Regions from separate parts of the Homo sapiens genome. Here region 2 is linked to region 1. Evidence: fine-mapped expression QTL. A gene starts in region 1. The other region holds a variant in brackets. All regions are shown on one strand. Distances are between the middles of the regions.

Region 1 (2,500 bases):
CCACACTTCTCCCCAGGTCCATCAATGCTCAGAAGAATGGAAGGGCTTTTTGTACATTCGTTTTTATTGTCCTGAGTGGGATGAATAAGTTTCTAATATACAAATTTCCCCCTCCTCATACATGGAAAAGAAACTGACAGAGGCCCAAATCGTTTCCTGGCAGCCCAGAATTCCCAGGTAACTGACCAAAGTCTCCTGCCTTCTGTCCTCATGCTGATCTGTTTGTATGAGCAACTGGGGCAACCCCTCGCATGGTTGCTGGGACAGCCGCCCACAGCCTCAGCTCCAGGAAGCACTAGGGGGTCACTGAGGCTGGACAGCAACTTAGGAAGTGGCCCCTAAGTGACTCTACCCATGGGGTTCAGGCCATCGGTGTGGCCTGAACATATTGGTCCTGGGGTGGAGGAACACTGCAGAGCCACAGAAATGCCACGAAACAGCCAGCTACTGCCCCCCACAATCCCCGCGACTAGTTAAAATGCAGATTCCTGACCCCACCCTGAGTGAGGATTCAGGGTGAGTGTGGGATCTGCAAACTTAAATTTCCCAGTGATTCTGATGTGGGATAGTCTAGAAGAATAGTTCCAGAGGCAATCATTTAGATCCTAAAACTGTGGGGAGTGGGGACAGGGTGAACGAGGTGCCCCCAGGTTCCACCCACCCCTCACTCTAGAGCTAAGGCCTCCCAGGAGGGAGTGCTGAGGAGGCAATGACCAGGCCTGAGCCAGGGTTCGGTCCCTGTCTTTCCACCAGCGTTGAGTTGATGGGAGTCAAGCTGTTCTCTCCAGGGTGCAAGCAGGGAAGGGGTTCTTGGGGATAGAAGGGTTCCCCATTGAATGGAAGGCAGTTCTGGGCCCAGGGAGGTGCCCAAGTTGGGTGGCCTGGGGAGGAGGAGGTGGGTGGCGGGGGAGCAACGGAAAAGGTTAACAGCCTGGAGAGCAAGGGTCGTCCCTCCAGCCACTGATTCCACCACCCAGGACGTGGCGCATGGGTCCTCAGGGGTGATATCTGGGCTGGTTCCGGGTCTGGGTCCCAGGTCCCCACCAGTGTGGCAGTGACTGTAGGGGGGCCTTGTGGGAGCAGAACGGGGTGAGAAACTGCGGGTGGGAGAGGGGCAAGGCACAGCTTCGCAGTCAGGCCTGTCCTCTAACGACCCAGGAATGCCAGACGCAGTGGCCAGGCGGGGCGGGGCTGCGGAGAGTCCCAGGACTGCGCTCCGAGAAAAGCTGGCTCTTCCTGGAAAAGGAAGGTCCTGCGGGGCCAGCGCGCGACCGGGGCTGCCGTCCCTCCGGGTGAGGCCGCGGGCCCGCCCCTTGTCCTCCCCGCCCCTCCCCGGGCTCGGGAGGCGGGGTCCGACCGCCCCCTGGCGGCAGCCGGGAGGGAACGACGGGGGCGACGACCGACGCATGGTCCCAGCGCGCGTGCGCCCCTGAAGGCGGGTTCCGGTGGCAGCGCCGGGGTCTCAGACCCTGAGGAGACTGAGCCCAGCGCCAGGCGACCGGTCCCCGCCGCCGCCGCCCCTGCGCGGGAGATCCCCCCTGCTTAGTCCGCGCCCGAGCCCCCGTCCGTGGGAACAGACAAGGGGCCTCCGCAGCGCCTCACAACCCCCGACCAGGTCCAGCGGCGGGGGACTCGGCCGTGGAGGGCGCTGTTCGGTCTGGATGGCTCCCCCCATCAGCGGGAGGCTACACCCCCCACCAGCAGGGGCAAGAGGAGCAGCGGGATGGGAGCAGGCCAACGTCCTGCGGCCTGGTTGAGCTCGCACTGACAATCGCAGGTTTCGGACACGGGGGTCGCTTTGGGGGGCCTGGGGGCGCGGGGACCAGAGCTCGGGGCGGGGCAGTCCAGCCAGTTGGGCCCCATGGGCTGGGGGGCGTCCGGCTCGGTCTTGATGCTGTTCTTGGGGAAGCGCCAGTAGTGGGCGCCCTTGAAGAAGTAGGTGTCACCTGGAGGAGCAGAGCTTGAGTCCCGGTCCCTCCCCGCCCCGCCGCTCCCTGATGCCCAAGGACCCCCATCCCCGCAGGGTGGCCTCCATGTCCCCATTCCCCACATCCCTCTCCCCACCCCCAGGCCCAGTAACCCGCAGGTCACCGCGCTCCCCACCTGCGTTGCTGACGGTGACATCGTCAGGGGAGGGGGGCGCGCCTTCCCAGAGGCTCAGGTCGCGAGGGTAGCCGGGGTCCGGGCGCGCCGCCGCCTCGTCGTAGCGCCAGTACTGCCGGCCGCGGACCAGGTAGGTCTTCCCGTTCTGTGGCCACGAGAACACGGCGTCCACCTCCTCTCCCGGGGGCAGCCCCAGCTCCGTGAGCGGCCGCGCCCCGCCCTCCAGCTGCCGGTCCTGGAACACCCAGAACTGGGGCCCTGCAGGGTGGAGGCCGGGAGGTCAGGGGTGGGCTCCCCGCGCCGGCCCCAGCGCGCCCCGCCGCCGGCCCCACTCACCGCTAAAGAGGAGGATTCGGCCGTCTCGGTGCCGAGCATAGGCGGCCTGCACCACCCTCAC
Region 2 (3,007 bases), 22 kb after region 1:
GGGAGGCAGAGGTTGCGGTGAGGCGAGATCTCACCACCGCACTCCAGCCTGGGGGAGAGAGCGAGACTCCATCTCAAAAAAAATCCTCACATCCCTATAAGCTAGGAACTATCATCCCCATTTTACAGATGGGGAAACTGAGGGCCGCAGAGGTTAATCAGCTGAAGGGCATAGGCACCCACATCTGGTATGTGGCCAACTGGATCCTGGACCGAAGCTATGTGATGCCAGCACCCATGGGCCAAGCACTTTGCTGTACTGTTTTATTGGTTCATTTCTGGTTTATAGGTCTACGCTCCCTCCCATGGCCCAGGTGGACTGTGAACCTTCTGGGAGTAGGGCTGTAATCACTTCATCCTGGGATGAGCTCAGCCTGGCAGGAGGCGCTCAAGATGTGCTACGTGTGGGTGTGAGTGGGGCCCAGGGTGACTGGCATTTGGAGGGGACACTGAGCTTCTATTTCCAGAGGGTCACATAGCAGCACCCAGGGGAGGCTGGGATGTCTTCAGTCCTCCAGTGGCTACCAGGCTGCTCCCACAGGTGCAGTGGGAGAAAGTGTCAGGCTTGCTGGGCAATGTGGCTGTAAGACAAATCTCTGGCTCCCCTACTCTCTGCTGGCAGAAAACCCTGTCCCAGCCCCAGGACCCAGGAGTCCCAGTTCCTAAGTCACCCCTCCAAGGAGTCCTTGCTCCCCTTTTCCCACAAGCCAGGAGTCCCAGCCCCCACCCTCCTCCTATTTTTCTAGAACCCAAGTAAGTAGCCCCCAGTCCCCCAAGACTCAGGAGTCCTGATCCCCAGCCAGAGGTGCACGGACCCAGCTGACACCAGCCAGCCAGAGCTGATGTGCACAGCCCCTTCTACCTCTGCACTCCGTGACGCCAGGTGAGTAGCTGGAAGTCAGCCGAGGAGCAGGTATTGCATCATGGATATTGGCAAATGCAACGAGCGAGGGCTATTGTTTTAGCCGGGGAGCCTGTTGTTAAACGCTTACCAGCACGCCACTGCTCCCAGCCTTCCATCTGTCCTGCTCTCCAGGCCAGGAGCCCCTGTCACGAGGCCCAGGGAGCCCTGGAGTCTGGAGATAAATCGTGACAAGACACAAGGCCATGGATGGGGCATCACTGCTGCCCAAGCCACCCTGGGTCCCCAGCCCCGGACCTTCCCATCTCCACACCAAAGCCCCTGTCCCAGACAAGAGCACGGTCCCCAGCTCTGCATAACTGAGGAACTGAGAACCCCAGGTGTGGAGCCACACGGACTCGGGCATGGCTCTGGGCAAGTCACTCTCACTGCCTGGGCTACAGTGTCCTTGTCTGCGGCATGGGAATCAGTAAAGAGCATGACCCTAAAGCCACACTTGTGCTGTTCACCTTCCAGTTCTGACCAGGGGACCCCAAACAAGGTGGAGGACCCCCCTCCGCCTCCGAGCCTCAGCTTCCTCATCTGTAAGATGGGGATGACAGCAGTTCCTCGTCATCAGGTCATCATGAAAGTCAACAAGTTGAGCCGGGGAGGTGGCTCACTCTGTAATCCCAGCACTTTGGGAGGCTGAGGTGGGCGGATCACGAGGTCAGGAGTTTGAGACCAGCCTGGCCAA[A/C]ACATTGAAACACCATTTCTACTAAAAATACAAAATTAGCTGGATGTAGTGGTGCATGCCTATAGTACCCGCTACTCACCAGGCTGAGACAGGAGAATCACTTGAACCCGGGAGCGGAGGCTGCTGTGAGCTGAGATGGCACCACTGTACTCCAGCCTGGGCAAGAAGAGTAAAATTCCATCTCAAAAAAAAAAAAAAAGGTCAACAAGTTATGCCTATAAAAGAGTTTACTTGACCAGAAGCAGAGGCTCATGCCTGTAATCCCAGCACTTTGGGAGGCCGAAGCGGGAGGATTGCTTGAATCCAGAAGTTTGAGACCAGCCTGGGCAACATGGTGAAACCCCACCCCTACAAAAAGTACAAAAATTAGCTGGGCATGGTGGCATGTACCTGCAGTCCCAGCTACGGGGGAGGCTGTGGTGGGAGGATCGCTTGAGCCTGGGAGGACGAGACTGCAGTGATGGTGCCACTGCACTCCAGCCTGCGTGACAGAGCAAAATCCCATCTCTAAAAAATAAAAAAGAGTTTACTTAGCAGAATGCTTAAGATGTCAGATTCGGTGTTGTTGTCATTGCTAATAATTTCCTGCCCCACAGGGCAAGGCAGTCGTGACGGGAAAGGAGCGGAGGCTACCTCAATGTAGGATCTGCAAACAGTAGATGCTCAGTTAACTGGCCGGGCCATTTGCAACCACAGCAGGTTGGGCCAGTGCCCCCCACCCAGGTGGAAGCGACTCTCCCTCGACCCCGCCCGGCCATTCAGGCAGCCAGGGAGCGCCCCGGCCCCTCCCGCGGCCCCGCCCCTTCACCTGTGTTGGCCGCACACCTGGAGCCGCCTCCGGAAGAGGGGACCGGAGACCGCGGGGACCTCGGAGGGAGCCCGGCGGCTTCGGGTGAGAGCCTGGGGGACGCCGAGGGCCGGGCCCCTCGAGCCTGGGGAGGGCCTGGTCCGGCCGCGTCGGCGGAGAAGGTGGGGGAGCCGGGGCGGGGGCAGGGGAACCGGGATCGCCGGGGAACCGGGGGCGCCGGCAGGAACTCAGCCGTCGGGGGTGAGCCCAGCCGCTTCTCTGGGCTTCCGACGCCTGGGGCTGGAGGCCCCAACACCTGGGCAGCTAGGTGCGGAAGGGGAGGGGGAGCGGTCTCCAGGTCCCTGTCTCTCGCGTGGAGGGGGGCGGGGGAGCGGGGCCCGCGAGGGCCAAGTCAGGGAGGTCCCCGGGAGCGGCCTGGGGGCGGCTGGGCTGGGACCACCGTGACACTCACGTCCTGCGAGCAGGGCTGCACATGGACACCGGGCGAGAGGAGGAGGGAGAGCACGGGTGTGTGTGCCTAGTGGGTGGTGAGCCCCCGGAGGGCTGGGGCTGGTAAAGCTGTTGTGTCGGGCCCTCTGACCCGAGCCCCTGAACCCCAGCCC

The links. PIP is the estimated chance that this variant, and not a neighbour inherited with it, causes the effect. A credible set is the group of variants that fine-mapping cannot tell apart.
Region 2: its variant is the best candidate, but not a certain one, in a credible set for the expression of MMP25-AS1 in esophagus muscle (GTEx, PIP 0.51).

Annotation. Positions count from the first base shown.
Region 1 is chr16:3,058,273-3,060,772 of GRCh38, reverse strand. It overlaps MMP25-AS1 (MMP25 antisense RNA 1), which reads left to right and starts at 1,403. Exons shown (of 5, transcript NR_123723.1): 1 at 1,403-1,777; 2 at 2,071-2,233. It overlaps MMP25 (matrix metallopeptidase 25), which reads right to left. Exons shown (of 10, transcript NM_022468.5): 8 at 2,440-2,500; 9 at 2,104-2,361; 10 at 47-1,946. The coding sequence ends at 1,675. It overlaps LOC124900372 (sialidase-like), which reads left to right and starts at 1,403. Exons shown (of 3, transcript XM_047435000.1): 1 at 1,403-1,777. RefSeq lists an enhancer at 260-1,165 and silencers at 1,204-1,673, 2,134-2,183, 2,324-2,453, 2,484-2,500.
Region 2 is chr16:3,036,376-3,039,382 of GRCh38, reverse strand. It overlaps BICDL2 (BICD family like cargo adaptor 2), which reads left to right and starts at 2,439. Exons shown (of 10, transcript NM_001369667.1): 1 at 2,439-2,489. LOC100128770 (a long non-coding RNA gene) reads right to left here. Exons shown (of 8, transcript NR_047572.1): 4 at 2,423-3,007; 5 at 1,988-2,104; 6 at 1,677-1,753; 7 at 1,371-1,548; 8 at 250-1,075. RefSeq lists an enhancer at 842-1,729. The variant A/C (reference allele first, on the strand shown) is at 1,598.